Regions from separate parts of the Homo sapiens genome. Here region 2 is linked to region 1. Evidence: fine-mapped expression QTL. Tissue or cell type: whole blood. Region 1 holds a variant in brackets; the other region holds the start of a gene. All regions are shown on one strand. Distances are from middle to middle.

The links. PIP is the estimated chance that this variant, and not a neighbour inherited with it, causes the effect.
Region 2: RGS18 starts here. The variant in region 1 is fine-mapped to the expression of RGS18 in whole blood (TOPMed, PIP above 0.99).

What each region holds. Positions count from the first base shown.
Region 1 is chr1:192,032,182-192,043,249 of GRCh38, forward strand. No RefSeq gene overlaps it. Among named protein-coding and RNA genes, the nearest start is that of RGS18, 120 kb to the right of the region's middle. The variant G/C (reference allele first, on the strand shown) is at 6,625.
Region 2 is chr1:192,152,318-192,163,516 of GRCh38, forward strand. RGS18 (regulator of G protein signaling 18) reads left to right here and starts at 6,145. Exons shown (of 5, transcript NM_130782.3): 1 at 6,145-6,439; 2 at 6,903-7,004; 3 at 8,061-8,122. The coding sequence starts at 6,321. RefSeq lists a silencer at 902-1,196.

The DNA of each region.
Region 1 (11,068 bases):
TTTATTAAAAAACAAAACATAACTCTTATTATATGATCTAGCGATTGCACTCATTGGTATTTATCCAAATGAGTTGTAAACTTGTGTATACATAAAATACATTTGTGAATATAGCAGCTCTATTCACAGTTGCCAAAACTTAGAGGCAGCCATAAGGCTTTACAGCAGGTGCTTGGATAAACTGCGTAGACTCATATGATGGAATATTACTCAATAATAAAGAAACAAACTATTCAGCAACAAAAAGACACAGGAATCTTAAATACAGATTGATAAATAAAAGAAATCAGTCTGAAAAAGCAACTTGCTATATAATTCCAATTATATATCATTCTGAACAAGGCGTAACTATGAATCAGTAGTTGAGAGCAATGAATAGGTGGAGCACAGGAGATTTTTAGGTCAGTGAAACTATAATGTCTGAATGATACTATAATGGTGAATACATTTATCAAAACTCATAAAATATACAATACAAAGAGTAAGCCCTAATATAAACTTTGGACTTAATAATTATGTATCAACATTGACTCATCAAAGGTACCACAGTAATGCAAGATATTAATAGGAAAATCTATGGGGATGGGGTAGGGTGAAGGTCATACAGGAACTGTACTTTCCACTTCCTTTCCTTATAATTCTGTAGTGCTCTAAATAATAAAGTCTATTAATGTTTTAGATAGCTACTGAAATCATATACTCACTTGGTTAAATATATCCGGGTATGTTGTCAGACTTAGAATAAGTTATTGCCAGAATTCGAAAGAGACTGAATAACTCATCTCCTGGCTGTCTTTCTTCTGTCATTTTCTACCTCTTCTTGAACAGCACTGGTCTTGCATTTCTCATACAAATGAAGCATTATTCTCTTTGTGGCCTTTGCTTCTGCTACCCCTTCTACCTGGAATACTCTGGGCTTTTTATTTGCATGGCTTTCTTCTTTACATCATTTATGCTGCTGCCAGATGTCATCTCATGAGAGAGAATTTATTTGATTTAAAAGAGCATCCAGTATCACTCTATGCTCTATCTGCTTCGTGCCTCTTTTTTAATACTTATATGTATATTATATTTCATATTGATGTGTAATTATTATCTGTTTTCATGAGTATTTAAGTTTCATGAAAGAAAGGACTTTGTTTTGTACAATGCTGTATCCCAACTTCATAGAGTAATTACTGTCATTTAGTAGGTTTTCCCTAAATAGTTGTAGAATGAGCAATTGAGGGACTTACAGGTAGCCATTTTTAAATATTTTGAAGACGTCTATAGATATACAAAAGTTAAAAGTAAACAATTCCTATTTACCTATGACCAGATTTAAAGAATTGTCAATATTTTGAAGAGACTCATTAAATATAGTACATATTTTTTAATGGCAGTTCATTTTATCAGGATCTTTTAATATGAGTAAATGGTCTGTACAATTGACAAAAATGTCATTTTTTTGCACACAGTGCCTTATTAAAACAAATTTATACAATCAAAATAACTTGAGTCATTATAAAACACTATATGTGAGTATATTAAACAATTATTACATACCTCCATGTTAACAACAAATAATACAGCAGATTAAACACCCAGTTCAGAAATATTGCTCCTGACTTTCTGCTCTTCGTTTTATACATTTATTTATTCTCCACCTCAGGGAAGTACTTTTATCCTTAACCTTTTCAATTTCTCATATCTCTGTGGCTTCCTCTTCAAAGGCCTCCTGGAACCTGCATCATTGGGACTATTTCTGCCTAAACAGTGTGACTTTTTGTACCCAGCCTTTTCAGTTTATCTTATCAACTAAGCATATGCCTCACTGAAAAACTTTCATAATTGGTCTAGAGATTCTATCAATTTTCTATACTCATACCATTTCATGTTTTAAAGAATTCACTCAGCTTTAAAATGCATGGCACAGAAAGAATACATAAACTAGTATTTTCCACCTATGTGGTTATGAAAATGTTTCAAGAATTAACTTGCCTACAACAGTGCCTTGTATTTGTTTACAAAGTTATGTTTAATGACTATATATTTTTGTCAGACATTCCATCGTTACAAAGCTAAGACTGAGAGTTATCGCTTATAATCATTCACTTTAGCCAGCAAATGTATATTGAATTTCTATTTTGTGTTAGGCATTGTTCTGACACAATAGATAGATAATGGTAACACATCAGACAAACAATGGTGAATGGGAAAAAATGAAGTTCTAGCCTCATATCACCTTACATTTCAGTGTACTACTACTAAGCAATTTGATCAGCTAAAAAAAATTAGCCTCATCAGCCTGCCCTCTTACCTAACAGATTAGCCACATACTTCTTACGATATTTTGTTTTGCCATTTAAATGAGAAGGAAGGAAGAGCAAGATAAGAGAAACTTGATCACTTCTCTTCAAATGTCAAAGTAGCTGTGATGTATTGCACACAGTGAAGGAATAGAATTAGAAAATCCACCCCAGACCATTCTCTTCAGTCTAAGCGAAACCAATTAGACTGGAATTCAGGACCTTAGGTTTGAGTTTAAAAAAAAAAAATAAATGCCATAAAGGTTCTAGCCATTGCAATAAAGCAAGAAAAAACAAATACACAGAGCAGAAAGGGAAAAAAAAAAATTTTAAGTGTTTGCATATGACAAGACAGTGTTAATAAAGAAACCTAAAGAATACATATAAAATTAGTAGAACCAATATTTAAATTTAAAGAGGTCATAAATTATAAAGTATACAAAATGTTCATGTTTCTATAGTTTATTAATAAAACATTAAAAATTAATTTTTTAATTCCCAAAACATAGCCAAATCATAAAGAGACTTAATCAACCATGTGAAAGACATAAAAATAAAACTATAAAACATTGTCAAGAGAAATATTTTTAAATCCTTAAATAAATGGAGAGATACATCATGTTCATGAATTAGAAGAATAAATATTGTTAACTCTCCCAAAGCTAACATATAGATCCAATGCAATGTGAAGCATAATTTCAAGAGTGTATTTGAGGAAGAGAGAATTAGAAATTGGCAATCTTGCTTTAAAATTTTTATGAAAACACAAAGTTCATAGACTAGCTAAACAATTCTTAAAAGAACAAATTTGGAAACCGTTTACCACTTGATTTCTACTCATCACAAAAGAATAGTAATAAAGACAATGGTATTGGTGTAAAGATACATGCATCAATAAAATAAGATAGGACATCTAGAAATGCTCTATGTATATAGTCAGTTGTTTTTGGCAAAGATGCCAAGGCAATTCAATGGTAAAGAATGGTCTTTTCAATAAATGTTGCTGGAACAACTAAATATCTATATGGAAAAATTAAAACCTCACTCTTAGATAATGATTTCTTAGATATGACACATGGAGCATGAATCATTATATAAAATATGATTGATTGATTGAACTTCATCAAAATAAGAAACCTGTGGTCTTTAAAAGACGCTGTTAGAAAATTAAAATACAAGCCATATAATAGTCACAGACACATTCACCCTAATATATCTGTCAACAGAAGTGTGTCTTAATATATACTTTTCACAAATCAACCGGGAAAATATTTGAACAGATTTTTCAAATATTACAGAAACAAAATATGAATGGCCAGTAAGTGCATTAAAATAACCTCAAGAATGTTATTTGTAAAAGAAATGTAAATTAAAATCATGACATGATATCACTAGACACTCATCACATTATCTAAAATTTTTTTAAAAGATAAGCCTTATGAGTTGTTGATGAGAATGTATTCCAACTGGAATACTCATACTTTGCTGGTGGGAATGCAAAATAGTGCAACTACTTTGTGAATGTGTATAGGTTTCTTATATATTTAACAAACAGATTATTACCATATGATCTCTAGGTATTTACACAAGGAACGTAAAAATATATACCCACATAAAGACTTTACAAAAATGTTCATGGCAGCTTTATTTATAATAAATTAAAACTACAAGCCAGGTGTGGTGGCACACACCTGTAGTACCAGCTATTAGGGAGGCTGAGGCAGGAGCATTGCTTGAGCCCAGGAGTTCCAGGCTGCAGTGAGCCGTGATCTATGATTGTACCACTGCTCTCCTGCTGGGGTGACAGACGGAAACTCTACCTCTAAATAAAAATAAAAATAAATGAGAAGAAAACAAATTCTCTCTCAATAGGAGAATGGACAAGGAAATTCTGCTGTGCTACTACTCAGCAATAAAAATAACAAACTACTGATCCATATGACAACTGGGATGAATCACAAAAGCTTGTTCTGAGCAAAGGTGCCAGTCTTAAAAGAATGCATAGTGTATGCACATGTAAACTCATAGGCACTCTAGACACTATAGGTTAATAGACATTATAGGTTAATCTTAGTTTTACCATGTTAACATCTGAATTTATTTATATTTATAATTATGTATTTCCAATGAAAATTTCATATGTTCTTACAAGGTTAGTTTTCCCAAATAAGATTATGATTTTCAAATTATATTCTGATAAATAATCTAACAAGACCTATTTTTAACTCTAGTGTCAGTATTAAATTAAGCATTCTAATTAAGAATGACTACCTTTTTTCATCCTGCATACAACTATCATTTGGACAATGTGGCTCTTCTATGTCCATAGTTGTGCTGAATCAAGCCCTGACAATGAGCCCCTTCTTTAGCAAAATTCGGAAATGAAATTCTGATCTTAGTCTAGCTGGTTTAGGTAGCATTGTATTTCCTGGTTCCATTTTCTTTTTAATACCTAGAAACATATCTATCCCTGTCTTCTTTTTTTTTTTGTCAAATGTTCCCAATGGATTTCTGTTACTTGTCACTAAACAGTCTCAATCACTACAGGTAAAGTCAATGGTAGTAACCAGGCTAGTCAAGGAACAATATTCCAGAAATATTCAGGTGGTTGTGTTATGGCCTAAATGAATAAAAATCAGTATACCCAGCACAAAGGCCAAATTCATGTATATAGAGTGATATTGGCAATATAAGAAAATGTAATTTACATAGTTTTTGATATAACATGATTATTAAAATTCTTTTTTATAAGCTCATAAATTAGTACATTTTTAATCAGTATGAAATACATACATTTATCTCATTAATATTTTGGTTTATTCATTTACCTTTTTATATGCTTTAAGGTAAATTTGCCCTCATGACTTAATTGTTTCTGGGTATAATGAGAAACCATTGTGCATGAGTAAGTTTGGGAATTAATTCCTGACAATGTTTACAATAAACTTTGTGAGACCTTATGTTAGCCTTCTGATGTCATTCCTCTCCAAAAATATTTGTTTTATTCCAACTTGAACAGCAAGGTCTTAGTAAAATCCCTATGGATTGTGATACGTAGTTGGAGTGTATGTGTCTCTGCTCTTATTTGTTCTTTATATGCACTAATGTATAACATAAGCATTACTGTATAGTGTAAGGATTTATGGCAGAAATAAGTTGAGTTAGGTTCAAATTCCCACACTGGGAATATTAGCAAATGAGAAATATAAATCATCAAAGCAATTTTATAAAACTGTTAAGCTATTAATGTTAATCCCACCTTGTTCCCAAAATAAATTAAGACAGCTTAAAAACATGAAATAATATATAGAAAGATAGCATAAATTAAAAATAGGTGAGAAAGGAAAAAAGTGAGATTAAACATAGCCAAATACAACATATACAAATATGCATATTATGAAGCACTTTATACTGTTTATTAGAGGAATCTGCAATTTGGACTCTGATTTTCAGCTGTCAGCTAAAAAGGAAATCTTGATTTGATACACAATTCACAGTGGCTTTGCAATAAATCTCAAACCACATTTCCAAGGGCAGACACAATTATTTCCAAATTCCAACACTTTAAAGCAATTTATTAAATAAATGCTACAGAAAAAGAACACTGAGGCCGGGCGTGGTGGTTCATGCCTGTAATCCCAGCACTTTGGGAGGCCAAGGTGGGCAGATCACGAGGTCAAGGGATCAAGACCATCCTCGCCAACATGGTGAAACCGCGTCTCTACTAAAAATACAAAAATTAGCTGGGCATGATGCCACGCGCCTGTAGTCCCAGCTACTCAGGAGGCTGAGGCAGGAGAATCTCTTGAACCCGGGAGGCGGAGGTTGCAGTGAGCCGAGATTGTGCCACTGCCCTCCAGCCTGGCGCCTGGCAACAGAGCGAGATTCCGTCTCAAAAAAAAAAAAAAAGAAAAAAAAAGGAAAAGGAAAAAAGAAACACTTAATAGAGTGTCCATTAGGACATTATCCTTACACAGACCATCTTAATGTCCATTAGGAGGCTGTTTCTTAATGTTTTCCTCAATGTCTTTTCACCGAAGAACAATGCACTCCTAGCAAGTATATCCTAGGGGCCAAGGTGGAATACATGACCCTCATTCTGTGTTCTATATTGAAAGACATATTAAAGATGAAATATATAAAAATAAGTATAAAGATGATTTACTCAAAAGATATTAGGTAGTTCTGACACTGAAAATGTGGTCCCTGATCAGTAAGAACTCAGCATTCATGTATTCTACAATGTTCACACAAGCTTATGATGCTTCCTTAACTACGAATGTGGGGTACACACTACATTCTCCATGGAAACTTTATGGAGCAATCAACAGAGGAA[G/C]TTGTCTAAAGTAGGTATTTCAAAACAAGGAAAGGAACTTTGTTTTGAAAAAACAAAAAGCTTGATATAGCTAGGTTAGAGAGGACTTAAGAGGAGAATGATGAGAGAAAAGTCTGAAAAAATAAAGGATAGCTCTGTTGTTTTCAAACCATTATATTTGGGTATACCCTAAAATAATTTTCAAAAGCTGTGCACATCTCATACATTTTTATACTAACATTTAAACCTTTTGATCACACTTTAAAAAACAATAAAGCAAAAAATTTCCACTGTATATAAGTAATGATATTTGAAATAAAATGGTTGCATCACTCTTTTAAAAGTACCTAATGAAATTTAAATACCAGGGTGAATTATTCATGATAGTCTATTTTAAAAACACATGGATATGCTATTTTTTTTTTTTTTTGAGATGGACTCTTGCTCTGTCACCCAGGTTGCAGTGCAGTGGTGCAGTCTCAGTTCACTGCAACCTCCACTTCCTGGGTTCAAGTGATTCTCCTGCCTCAGCCTCCTGAGTAGCTGGGATTACAGGCACCTGACACCTTGCCCAGCTAATTTTTGTGTTTTTAGTACAGACAGGGTTTCACCATATTCGCCAGGCTGGTCCCGAACTCCTGACCTCAAGTGATCCGTCCACCTCAGCCTCTCAAAGTGTTGGGATTACCACCGCGCTTGGTGGGGTACGCTATTCTTATTGGAAATTATATATCATCCTTTTTTTAACCCCTTAAAATTACTTTTAATTTTACTCTTTTCACAGATTTTCTGTTTAATGTAATTTTTATGCTTCATGAATTTCAATTGATGATCTATCAAACTTTCCTGAAACAAAATTGGAATATGATAGAAATTATTTTAAAATTGTTTTTATGATTATAAGACTAAACATGAAAATCTTCTAGATGATGTATTCTAATTATCATGAAATTTATTAAAATGCTAAACATGATATTGAATTTTTAAAATAAGTAAAATTGTATTCGTTTTCATATGATGAAGGTGACATTTGTCCAGTTAATTTACATCCCCTAAATGAATAATTTTGAATGCTAGAATGAGATATAACAGTATTAGTTCTATGAATCCACCAACAGAGTTTCACATAGAGGCATTTTACATATTTTAGTGTCTTTCAAAATAATATGAGAGAATTAAGATTTTGTTAAATTTCAATATATCTTTATCAACACAATAAATGTTGACAAAATGCTTTATTATTATCATGTGCTTTAAATATATTTTTCTGAACAACTATGAGCTGCATATTCAGCTCTTTTACTTTATGTATAATGTCTAATATGAACAAAACCCTATTTTAAAATAAATTATCTAAATCAGATTTTTTTTTTAGAAAAAGCCTAACTTCATCATTTATTTCAAATATACAATATACTATATGTTTGGAGGAATATTATTTTAAAACCAAATATTATAAAAACTGAAGAGAAACAAATTGGAACACCTGTTTAATGATGTTTTACTAAAATCAATCAAGATTAAAATTATATAGCTATATTATTGTTAATTCATTTTAAGACCCCATCACAATATGTATTCAATGTGCTATTCCTTATTGTTTATTTGTAATAAAGGAATATAATATATAGTTAAAATCATAAATGATTTACATGGTGAGATTATGACAAAAGGCATAATATTTTGGTAAAGTTTGATTGGGAACATTGCTTTCTGTATATGACTTTTTAAGAAAATATAAATGTCAAGAATAAAATTCCTAATTAATTTTATTAACCTTCTTATGCATTATGCCTAAACTAATAAAGCAGAAATGTTTGAACTTCTAAAAGCAATCCATTCAACATCTAATGTATAATTTTACTTGTTGATAACTATAAGAAAGTATAAGAAAATTTTAATCATTTTATTAAATATAAAAAAAAATAATTGATTTGTGCTGGAATAAGTCTTCATGACATAGTTGATAAAATAGGCTCTTAGTTAAATTTATCAGTGAGGGTTCAGTAAATAAAACAGAGGTTCTAGGAGTATTATCAAAATGAGGAAATTACTATAGGAATTAAAAATTTTATGAATGTGGGGCGAACTTAGAAAGTGGAGGTCTAGAAGGGGAGAGTCAGAAGCTCAAAGAAATTGTCATTAATCAATCCTCTGTAAGAACTAATGCGCGTAAATAAAGTCCAGACTTGCTAGAAAATCTAAGAACCTGGGATGGTTTTCTGCCCAAGCTACCTCAGGAGTTGCCTCCATGTGGTAGCTGCCCAGGAGCTGCCAAGTCCAAGCTCCTTGTGGTGGCCCAGGCTGCTGTTGGTCAGCAGTGACAGCAATGAAGAGGCAGAGCAGAGGAGAGCAAGGACAAGTAGGGGTTCCAGGCATCTTTCCAGGCATCGTGTCTAACCTTAAAACAAACTGAAAAGAGATTTCTTGGAAATCTAGCTCTCTGCTTTTTCCCAGTTGACATCACACAATGCAACACAGTAACTGATTATGAAATGCACACTGAGCTGACAAAAAAATTCATATTTTTATCTGCAATTTTTCTCCATTGGAACATTAAAATTTTTGTGGTCCCTAAAACATTACAGTTATCTTCAAATATGTCAATTACACTAACATATACTTCTTCATCTATTAAAAAGTACTTTCCAGCTAATGACAGAACATAGAAGCATGAATATATACAAAATGAATTGCACACCTGTGAGTAGGTGGAAGAAAAGACCATTTATTTTCATTTAATATTTTGAACCAAACACTCCTTTTGCTTTCCCTCATCTATCTTCTCCATGAGGTCTCTGCCTCTTTTGAAAGCCAGTGGATGAAAGATGTGTGCTCCTTAAAACAAAATTCCCATCACTGTTGCTGCCCACATACTCTGTAAGGATCCAAACAAGTGCCAAAACAAGTTATTTCTGAAGTCATGCTTTGTGTGTAATAGCAATGTGTTTAAGACAAGAAGAGGCAGTAAGACCTCTGATGAGATAATTTTCCATTTTTAGATGTCCCAAAGTATTTTTCATGACTAAGAAATGTACTATAATAAGATTCTGGATGAGTAAATTGTACGTATCTTTTTCCCTCTATAAGGTAGAGAAAGAGAAAATATGAAAAGCTAGGTGGGAAAGGAAAATTTACATTGTTAGAAGAGAATACATTTGGAATTTGAAGATTATGAAATTTATTCCTTTAAAACTACTCATTTTCAAACCTTTATATTGAGGTACACAGTAAAATAATTTTGAAAAACTATGCATATCTCATATATTTCAGATTGACATCTAAAACTTTTAATTCGATTTAGAAAGGTATAAAATTTTTTATTGTACATAAATAGTGATATTTTGAAATAAAATAGTTACATCACTCTTTAAAAGTGCCCAGTGGAATCTAAATACGAGAGTGATTTATCCATGATTGTCTATTTTAAAATATATGGGCAAGCTATTATTATTGGAAGTTACACATCATTCTTTTTCTTAACTCCTTCAAGATACTTTTTAATTTTACATTTTTCGTGAATTTTCTGTTTGATGTAGCAGTTTTTGTGTTTCAAACACTTCATTTGATCTTCTATCACACTTTTCTGAAACGAAATATGTTACAATTGAAAACTGTATTGTGTAATGTGTTGAAGAATGGGGACCACAGCGTATAGGGTAGGAAGTCAAAGCAAGAGAAGACTGATAAATTTACAGAAAAAAAAAAAAAAACATTTAGGGGAAGAAAGTCTGAGAACAGTTGGAGAAAATGCAGGAGTGGTATTAAATCAGAGACCAAAAATAATTGGAAGTTATAATTTGAGAGGACAACACTTAAATTTAATATTTCATAGAGAAAACATCTTAGTTCATAGCAGTGTTCGACTGTGGAAATATATGGCTAAATCAGAGTGCAGAAGAATTGTACTGAGTAACGGTCACAAAATTAAGAGGTTCAAATGTAAGACTAATTAGTGCGTATATGTTCAATTATTTAAAATCATGGCAAGGCTTTAGATAGAAAGGGGAAAAATATGTGCTCTTACATTTGTACAGCCACCAAAGATGGCAGTCAGGTAAGGCATAGAGAGTTTAGATTGGAGTTTCCTCATAAAACTATTTCCATCACCCCATGGTAGATGCAAAATGGGTGCATTGGAAGAATCAACCAGAGCATGGAATAATAAGCTTCTGAGGGAAAGAGTACGTCTACAGGCAACAAAATACCCCATCCTCCTAGAGTTTGGAAAAGCATCAAACCATAGCAGGCTGAGTATTCCTTACAGGAAAATGTATAAAATATTGTTAATGTAAAAATCAGTCCTTTTTTTTTTTTTTTTTTTTTTTTTTTTTTTTGAGATGGAGTCTCGCTCTGTCGCCCAGGCTGGAGTGCAGTGGCGCGATCTCGGCTCACTGCAAGCTCCGCCTCCCGGGTTCACGCCATTCTCCTGCCTCAGCCTCCCGAGTAGCTGGGACTACAGGCG
Region 2 (11,199 bases), 120 kb after region 1:
TTGGGGATAACTGTGAAAAGGGAGACTTGGTTGGTTTCTGGTATATAAATTCTTTTCATATTCCCTTACCTCGTGCTGTTTATGAAATTTATTCTCAAAATAGCTAGTAAAATATTATGTTGATTTTGACTGCTTGATAGGTATTGGAACATGGGTGTTTCCTACCTAAAAACAAACATTCACACTTTCAGGCAGAACTCATTAGGCAATTAGTCCTTTATTTGTAAAGCCATATTTATTTGGTTCATAATTTTACATTTTTCCCTTGATCCACAGAGACAATTCTATTTCCCTCTTATTTTAATCTGCTTCTCTTTCTTACAATTTATCTGTTGAACTTTGCTGTAGTTGCCCCCAGGGTCTGGATTCTGGTGATTGCATATTTATGGTGCAGTTCAACATGTTCTTCCATCTTCTGTCCTCTGTCATTTCTACTCATTGGCAGCTGGGTCCAGAGAATGAATCAGACTTAAGTTTGGTCTTTTTAAAAACCTATAAGTAGGGTATAGCAAGGCTATAAAAAGCACATAATTTTGCCATGTCTTTATATGATCTTAACAACCACTGAATCACAATACCTAAGTTTAATCATTTGTTAGGGGTTAAAATGGTGAGATTCTAATGCAATTATTTTATTTTTATGTGTTTGTTAGAGTATTTTTATTAAAAAATTTATCTCATGCAGTATTTTGTTATCCATGATAGAGTTAATAAAAAATGCAGGCTACCTGCTTAATTTTTTCCCTTTCTTAAACAATTTTAATAACAATGGATTAGTTTCTATTGATAATCTGAAAGTAGGCAATTCTTTTTTAATAGCATTATGCACTCATAGATATAAGTACGTTTGATCTGTTCAATCCATTGCACTTATTAAAATTATTGAAGTTCAAATGGTGTCATCTTGGTTAGTAGAAAACCCACCAAATTCTTGAAGAATTTTAAATTGATCAGTCTTTGCCAGCTTATTTGCTAACTGATATGACAATATTTGCTAGGCTTAGCTTTGCTATGTCCTGTCTGAGACCTGGAATCAGTGATATCTTTAGCAAACCTAGTTTTCTTGGAGTGAGAAGTGACATTTCAAGACCACAATCTAGGTCTCATTGCTACTGCATTAGTCATTGTTTCTAAGTATTTATAGTGGAAAAGACTAGAAAACATTTACAGGCAGGAATTATATATATCCCAGATCTGTCCACTATAAAAGACTAGAAACAATGACCAACACAGTAGCAATTTTCTGTTTACATTGATGCTTGCTATCAAATTTCCAAGACTAAAGTGCTTTTAACTAAACTATTCTCTATTGCATTTGCATGTCCCTTTTTCTATATTAAGAATTCTTTTTTCTCAAGGACACAGAATATGATAAATTAGAACTGCCACTAATTATTCATTTTTAAATTATTTTTAGATTACTAGTACTATTACCATTGTGATTACTAATATTAAATAAATTAAACCAAAGAAACTTTCTTGAAATCCACCTCATTCAAAAAAGCACAGGAAAATTAATTTCACATGAAAAATAATAGAAATGTACAAAGGTCAAATTCTATGCAATGTTATAATAAGAGAATAAGGAACATAACTATATGAATGCACACATACACAAAATATAAATCTGAAACCTAGCCTCATTTTAGTTGGCCTTACTTTCTCCTAATGCTAAGGAAAAGAAGACAAGGATTCCAATTATTAATTTACTGTACTCAAGTTGTAAACCAATGATATTAGGCTAGAAAATAAAGATATGATAACTGAAAAAGAGTTGTTAAAATTAATAATATTTATATGAATCTATCTTTTGAGAAATATAGGAAAATTAATTTTAAAACTATGATAAATTTGTTGAACAATAACAGTATTAATGGAATTCAGGTAACAGGGTATAATATTCATTTACAAAAATTGTATATGCATATTATATATATATGTTTAAAGATGACCATGATTATTATGATCAACTGATACATCACTTCCTGCCATAAACAGCTTGAAAACTGTAAAAATACAAAATACACTGGTTTTTACCACTGAAAATAAGCATAGAGAGGCATAGAGAACTGTGATCCATAACAGAAGAGAGACAGAGAAAGTAAGCCCTGCCTTCCTTTAAAAAGACTGCAGTGCAGAGAAGGAACATAAATCTCAAATTTAGAATTTAGAAATTGAGAAGTTTATAGGGGTACTCCTTAAATAGAGCGAAAACACTAATTTGAGTTGAGGAAATAGTGATCTAAATTCAAGGAGATTGAGAAGACTGAAATTTACAAGACAAAGTACTAGAAAAAGTCTAAAAATACTATATAAGAGTACTTTTGAGTCTAGCTGAATACCAAGCAGCTCAGATGAAAAACAAAACTGCATGAGTACTGACAAAGGATTCCCACCAGGGATGTGGGTTAATTTACAGAGATTATACCGGGTTCAGGTACTTTTAAGCTCTTATCATCTAAAGCAGAAAAGCCTTATCGAACACCCTGGGAATGCATTAGAGATTTAAGAATCATTATACCTTAGTAATTAAAACTACCCTAGATCCAGTATAACAAATTTAAACACAGGTCTTTAAGACGGAGGTGATACACAATTGATTGTTGGCTAAGACCAACTTCATCATCATTAAATGGAGAATGAAAGAATCCTGAATATTTACATCATAAAATTCAAAATGCCCAACATCCAATAAAAAGTTACTAGAGATCTGAAGAAGCAGGAAAATACGCCATCATTAGCAGAAAAATCAGTCAATAATAGCAGACCCAGAATTACAGAGATGCATTTTCAGAACAGGCTTCAAAACAGCTATTATAAATATTTTTAAGTATTTGAATATAAAACCAACAAGAATATAATAAGGAAGGAAATGCAAACTATAAAAATGGAACTTATGTAGCTGAAATGAATATTTTACTATACAAGTTTAACAGCAGACTAGCTATTGGAGAAGAAGAGGTTAATGAACTTGAAGACACAGCAATTGAAGCAGTCTAACCTGAGAAAGGGACAGAAAAGAGGCCAAAAAAATGGAATAGTTCCTTAATGACCAGTGGAACCGTGTTAAGGAGTCAAACATACTGTAATTGGAATATCTGAAGATAGGAGAAAGAGAAACAAAAAAATGGAGAACTAGTGCCTAAAAGTTTTCAACTTTGATAAAAACTAAAGCCCACAAGACCAGGAAGCTCAACAAATTTCAAGTAGAACAAACACCATTTATATCTTAATCAAAGTTTTAAAACTAGTTATAAAAACGTTTGAAAAGTAGTCACAGGAGAAGAAAGACATATTAGAACATAGAAAACTGGCACTGATTTCTCAACAGAAATAATGGAGTTCAGAAGACAAAAGTGTAAAATCTTTTAAAGTCCTAAAGAAAAGAAAAATCATCCTATAATTCTTTCTGGTGAAAATATTCTCCAACGGAAGATGGGGAAAAAGACACTTTTTTCATATGTTATATATTTGAAAATTGTTCATAAAATCATATATTTTGTTTTCTCACCATAAAACAATAAGCACGTGAGATAATACATATGTTAAATTGCTTGATTTAGCCGTTTCATAATATAAACAAAAAAAAATTTTTCTCAGAAAATCAGTACTTGAATATATTTATTGTTAGCAGATATGCACTACAGAAAATATTGAAGACAGGTCTTTATGCTAATGGAAAAGGATTCCAGGCCTGCACAAAGGAGTGAAGAGAGCTAGAAAAGGGAAACACGTGGGTATATATATATACACACACACACACACATATATATATAAATCCTTATCATTAAAAGTATACATATTTAAATAATAACTGACCATGCCCAAAAGAATGATATTTAACTGATGTCACCTTCAGAATCCACCTTTTTCTTCCTCTCTGGTTCCAGCTCCTAACTGACCACATACGCAGAGTAGAGCCAAACCTCTCTTTTCCAATTCTGTTTCAGAACTTTACACAGACCTGTGGAGTAGTTCACTTATGCCCATATTTTCTTTTCTTTTTCTTTTTATTTTTTTGTGAGGGGGATGGAGTCTTACTCTGTCGCCCAGGCTGGAGTGCAGTGGCATGATCTCGGCTCACTGCAACCTCTGACTCCCGGGTTGAAGCAATTCTCTGCCTCAGCCTCCCCAGTAGCTGGGATTACAGGCACCTGCCTCCACGCCTGGATAATTTTTGTATTTTTAGTAGAGATGGGGTTTCACCATCTTGGCCAGGCTGGTCTTGAACTTCTGACCTCATGATCCACCTGCCTCAGCCTCCCAAAGTGCTGGGATTACAGGTATGAGCCACCGTGCCCGGCAACTTGTGCCCGTATTTTCACAATTTCTTTTTCCACGGTTCTATCAGCATTGTGTATAGCACACTTCACACATAAATTTAACATATCTTATGAAAAATAATATATTGATTTTATGTCTTTAACTTCTCTGAGTTAACAGTTAAGTTATAGTCCTAGTGACTGGATGATGTCCATGCTCCTATGATTTTCTCTTGTGCTCATTCACCTTCATAGGATTAAACTGATATAAACACAGTGGATACTAATCATTACTAGGGGACAGCAGGGTGGAAGCATAATCTGCATTATCAGTATCCATTTCCAGCAGAAGCTCAATGCAAAATGCCATCATACATAATATTTTTCAATTCTCAGCCAAGGTGAGAGATTTAAAATATGTTCAAAGTACAAGTCATGGAATCAGGGGGTATATGTATAAATATATACTAGAAAGTCTTTAATTTCATATAGATAAATGTTTTGAGCTTTTAGCTGGTATCCCTGATAAATTGTCTTGGTAAAAAAATAATTCAAAAAGACTGAAAATAAAATTTTCTTTTAGGTTTGTATAACTCAGCTTTCAATATATACCATTTTAGATTAAAGCATTCACTACTGGAGATCAAAGATTCTTGGAAGGACTAAAGCACATAGTAGGTGATCAAAGGCTCTGATAATTCCAGATTTTCCACTGGCCTGTCTCTGAAACTTTGTAGGATTAAATTACCTAATGCCTGTGAACTTTGGTTTATTTTTCAATAAAATTTGAATTATGGACTAGAACTGCATTTGTAAGACTTTTGTATTCTATAAAACAGTGAAAGAAGTGGAGGCTAAACCAATTGGAGTTGTCAACATTTTTTTTAATAAAGGCATTAAAATATAAAAACTACCATCTCTACTTAATCCATGTCATTATAAAGAACATTTTTACATTATAAAGAACATTTTAACAACAAAAGAGTCAGGAGAGCAAATTCAAAATAGCAAGTCCTTTATATCAAAGGAATTAAAATAAAGCTTTAAGAAAAAAAACTTTTCATATTTTTTTCCATTTCATCACAGACTGATAAAAATTTCAAAAATGTCTAAAATCATTCTATAGATATGTGCTTAAAACTTTATTTATTTATTTGAGACAGAGTCTTGCTCCGTTGCCCAGGCTGAAGTGAAGTAGCCGGCATGATCTCAGCTCACTGCAACCTCCGACTCCCAGGTTCAAGGGATTCTCCTGGCTCTGCCTCCTGAGTAGCTGGGACTGTAGGTGCACACCACCGTGCCTGGGTAATTTTTTGTATTTTTAGTAGAGATGGGGTCTCACCATGTTGCCCAGGCTGGTCTTGAACTCCTGAGCTCAGGTAATCTGCCCACCTTAGCCTCCAGATTACAGGCATGAGTTACTGTGCCCAGCCCAAAACTGTTAAATTAAATGCTTTCTACAATCTTTTTTTAACCATAAAATTCTGATCTATTGTCTTATTTTGTTACAATATGTTAAGCCAATGTAATTAACATTACATAATCTTATGTCAGTTAAATGTGATTTACTTAACTCATGTAATAACAATAAGAAAAATACTTTTTTAAGAACTGGAGAAAATATCTCCTAATGTTTGATATAATACTTTGCCATAACACATTTTAACACACAGTCCACACATTTAAAAACTTTTTGAAAAGTTCCTGTGGGAAATGACAGTGTTATTTGAGTCTATTAAAGCATCATTCTGGTTGCGCAAACTTGAACGAGAAGTTGCACTGTGGTAAGACTAGTCTTTATCTTAGAGACCAAGAGTCATTTTGCAAATTTGTGGTATCATTTCCCTAAACAACTTAGGACCAAATTGTACTTCATTTCCTCAGTTCTGCATTTCTGCAGAGACAGAAAGAAACGCAGCTCTTGACTTCTTTTTTGTAAACATTACTGTAAGAGTTGTGATAACTTTTTATTCTACTATGTATATGTATGGAATAGTATTAATAAATGAACTAGGGAAGGATGTAATAAATTAGACATCTCTTCATTTTAGAGAGAAGATGGAAACAACATTGCTTTTCTTTTCTCAAATAAATATGTGTGAATCAAAAGAAAAAACTTTTTTCAAGTTAATACATGGTTCAGGAAAAGAAGAAACAAGCAAAGAAGCCAAAATCAGGTAAAATTGTACAATTTTAAGTCAGCCTTATACTTTTAAAAGCATAATTGAGGTTGAAGATTCATTACCTCTTGTTTTTGAACTATTGGGTGGAAAATATATTGTTTGTATTGCTATAATTTGGGAAAAAAAAACACCTTTTTATTTCTTAGGTTTAAACAACAAACTGAAATCTAAAGTGTTCTCATTAAAAAAAAAGTGTAATAATGTTAGCCACATAGAGGAACTAGTGCAATCTTTATTGAAATATAATCTCAAATACTTGATTGTCGGTGAGCAAAAGGAGAAACATTTTCGTATGTTACCCTAATTCCTCCACAAATACAATATTTAAATGGGATTCATGAGTGTGTGGGTATGGGTGGGCGTGGGTTTTTACCAACTACAAAATTTTCTGGTAGTCAGCAGGAGAGATTTTAACTGTCATCTAAATTGTCCTGACATGAAGGCCTTTTTATTACAGAGCTAAGGAAAAAAGAAATAGACTAAGTCTTCTTGTGCAGAAACCTGAGTTTCATGAAGACACCCGCTCCAGTAGATCTGGGCACTTGGCCAAAGAAACAAGGTGAATAAATTTTCAGTATTTTGAGGAAGATTTTGCTGATTCTATCATTAAAGATTTAAGAAAAATGCAGTTAGGGATTTCTGATTTATTGAAAATTACACAGCAATATAAGGAAAGTTAGAAATTTCATTTGAAGAGACTAGAAATATTTCATAAAATTAAATCACTTGAATTAAATCGCTTGAATTGAATAATCACGTGAACACTTAAAGCTGCTCTTTTAAAATTATATACCTGTCAGTTTTAAATGACATGTTTTACTCCTTATAACCTGATAAAATGCTCATTAATTTAAGAGTTTTCACAATGCAATATTGTCATAGCAGAGAGATATTCATCTCTTTCTTCAGTAGTTTGAAAAAACACACGCATTATAGCAAGTAAAGCACAAATAATGTCTTTTAATACTTAGCATTTATTTAATTCAAAAAGAAAATGCAAAAACCTTATATACTAGTTTCATACAAATTCTTCCAAATTAGAGTATAATAAAAAAGATCCGAGAAAATATATTCAATTCTCCACATTACCAACATCTCTAGAATATTTTTTCTATTAAAATATCTTATATTTCTTATCCCTTTGAAACTTTATTAGTCAAACTTCCTGTATCCGTTTAAAAAAAAAATTTGCAGCCTAGTGTGGTTACAGCTTCAAGGAAATTGCAGTATAATTTTTTTTTAACTGAAAGATACTGTGAGTTTAGTTTTTTTCTACTTGCTGAATTTAAACAGATAGTTGACCTGATTTCTTTATATTTGTTATCTGTGCCCTTTAACCTAAAAAAGGATTAATTTTTAATTAAAAAATAAAACTCACATATCCATGAGAAAAAAAATAATGTTATTTCAACACATTATTCAACAGACAAATTCCAAAAGAAAATTGAACAATGTTTTCAAAGTTTCTAATGTAAATGCAATTTTCATTATATTATAATCAAAGGAGAAACTGTGAAATATAATTGAAAAGAGCAGTAAAATAGCATATGTTAGAACAGATTCATAAACAGACTTTCTGCACACTCCATTATAAAACATTTTGTTTCTTGTACAGAGTCTCCCCTGAAGAGGCAGTGAAATGGGGTGAATCATTTGACAAACTGCTTTCCCATAGAGGTTAGTGGTACTTTCACCAAATACTTTGTGTGCTTAATGGAAAATTACACAAACTATGCATGTAATTATCCGAAACAATAGGTCACAAAATTTTTGTCTGATTGTTAATTTTCAGTAATTCAATTTTCTGATCAACAGAACTAAGTAATAGAAAAGTCAAATAATGGAAATTTTTTTAAAAGTTCTCATTTTGTTTAGAATTACCTACTGTGGATGAAATATTAGTTATTTATACTGTAGCTAGTTTCAGTTTTTAAATTTTTCCGATTTTTGAATGAAATCTTCGGTTTTATCAAATTCATGATTAACGAACTATTCATGTTAGTTTCATTGTTCAAGGATTAAAAATATCAAGTAATTCTTTCGATGGACATACAGGAAACCCACATAAACACAGTTTTTTTTGTTTGTTTGTTTTTGTTTTTTGTTTTGAGACGGAGTCTCGCTTTGTCGCCCAGGCTGGAGTGCAGTGGCGCCATCTCGGCTCACTGCAAGCTCCGCCTCCGTTCAGGCCATTCTCCTGCCTCAGCCTCCCGAGTAGCTGGGACTACAGGCTCCCGCCACCACGCCCGGCTAATTTTTTTGTATTTTTAGTAGAGACAGGGTTTCACCGTGTTAGCCAGGATGGTCTCAATCTGCTGACCTGGTGATCCACCCGTCTCAGCCTCCCAAAGTGCTGGGATTACAGGCGTGAACCACTGCGCCCCGCTCCATAAACACAGTTTTAAAAAAAATTTATAAATTCTTCATTCTGTACTTCATATCAATTGTCTATTTTTAAAGCAGAATTTTGTAGAAATGTTGAGAATCGAGTATGTATTTAAGGTGGAGCTTTGTCTGTGAGATGGAGGGTGAGGACAAGCATCAAGGCCTCATTTGACTCTGGAACACTGTTATAATATAGCATGGCTTAGGAGGCAGGCTCCCTGGATTGCCACTCTTTAGGGTCAATTTACATAAGGTAGCAAGTGAGTGAACTTTGTTGTCTGTATTCATTTTATGCTTTCTTTCAGATAGAAAGACTCAACTGAGCAGGTGATGCAGCTAGGTAATCACAGATTTATTATTCTCCACCCTGAACTTGTCAGAGTCTGCAAAAAAAGCAATGCTTTATCATTACCAAACATCCACCTCAAGCCCACAGCTTTTTTTTTTTGCACTTTAAACTTGTCCAGTTTCTCACCTTAGTCTTTGAAATACAATCATTTCCCAGCTCTTCCCAGACCCTTCCAAGATGAGGTTAGCCAGACTACTCTAACTACTCCTTGTAGCGTTGCCCGTGTCTTTCACAATTTTAAGGTGTCTACTGGAAGAAAGGATTCCTGTTGCCAGGACAGTTGGGAGTGGAATATTTGTAATTCACCCTCAAATACTATGCTCCATTTAATGTAACAACAACTTTTCTTTTCTGACATATTTTTGTTTTGTTTTGTTCCCTTCCTTAATTGTCCAACTCTTTATAAGGTCTTGGTGACCTTTTCATGTTCTTCTGAATTTAGTGATATAAAAATTCTATATCTGTAGATGATACCTGAAAACTTTCCCTCTGCCAATGAAAGTAGATGGCTGCCTCTGAACTGTAATATTTATAGGTAGAGAAATCAAGGCTTAAACTTAGTTAAGGATGTAATCAATGAGAATGGAGAGTTATGGTAAGAAAGTTTGTGCTGACAAAGTTTAACTTGTATTCCTTATATTTCACTCTAAGACTAGCTACTATCACTTCCTGTTTTTGGGAAAAGTAACTTAAACAGCCTTCCTCAACTACTGTACTCACTTTTCTTCATTTCCAGTATACGACAATTCATTTTTTGCTGTTTTTTGTTTGTTTTCTTTTTTGTTTTTTTGGTTTGTTTGTTGTTTTGTTTTGTTTTGTTTTTGTGTTTTGAGACAGAGTCTTGCTCTGTAGCCTAGGCTGGAGTGCACTGGCACAATCTCAGCTCATTGCAACCTCCACCTCTTGGGTTCAAGGGATTCTCCTGCCTCAGCCTCTGGAGTAGCTGGGATTACAGACACAGGCCACCACACCTGGCTAATTTTTGTATTTTTAGCATATTGGTCTCGAACACCTGACCTCAAGTGATCCACCCATCTAGGCCTCCCAAAGTGACGGGATTACAGGCGTGAGTCATCATGCCCAGCCCCAGTATACAACAATTTCTAAACTATTGTTAAAATTCTTGCCAAATCTATGTCAAACTTGCCCCGTACTCACTTTCTTGCTCCGATTGTTTTGGTTCAGTTTCAGATATGCTCTTTATAGATTAATTACAATAACTTGTGTAAAACTTGCTTCCATAATTCATGTCCCCCAAATGTGTTTATTTTAAAATCTCCTCTTATATTCAACATTTTGGTACTGCACTGCCCTTTAGACTCCTCACCAGTCAGAGAAGGAGAAAAGAAAACAAAACAACAACAACAAAAAAAGAGGACTGGGATTAATTTCTTTATAATATAAGTATTTATTAGAAGGAAACATACATCTTTTCATCTGTGGATTCCTAAACTTAGCACATCCCCTGGAAAAGAATATAACTGAATTTGTTTCTAGAAGTTAGTCCAGAGTTCCAGTGAAATTCGAGTTTTAGTTTTCTCCTAAAACATAAATGGTTGTATAATCTTAGTTAAGCTTCCTAATCACTCTGACTTTCAGCTTCCTCGACTGTAAATGAAGATAATGTTTTTAGCTCCAACAGAAATAGATTTCTGTCAGGATTAAATGAGATGATGAATAAGAAACCAATAAATCTTGGACACTACAGAAATGTCAATGATTGCTGCTATTATAAAAAATAATATTTACTAACCAGCTTAATAATCTTTTTTTCTGTTTCCAGTCTAGTTACAACTGGATGATGATCAATTAGAGGGTGAAAATTTCAATTGACAATAACATATAGACAGGATTTCTTTCACTTAATGAATTAGTATATAATAATTTCATCATACTTTCATTACTCATTCAAAGCATAGAAAGATTTAGCAGGATGATTAGTCCTACAGAAAATCCTCACCTAGCATTCTGTAATCTTTCTTCTTTAAAAGTGGTAAAAAGCAAAAGGACAAAATCGAAT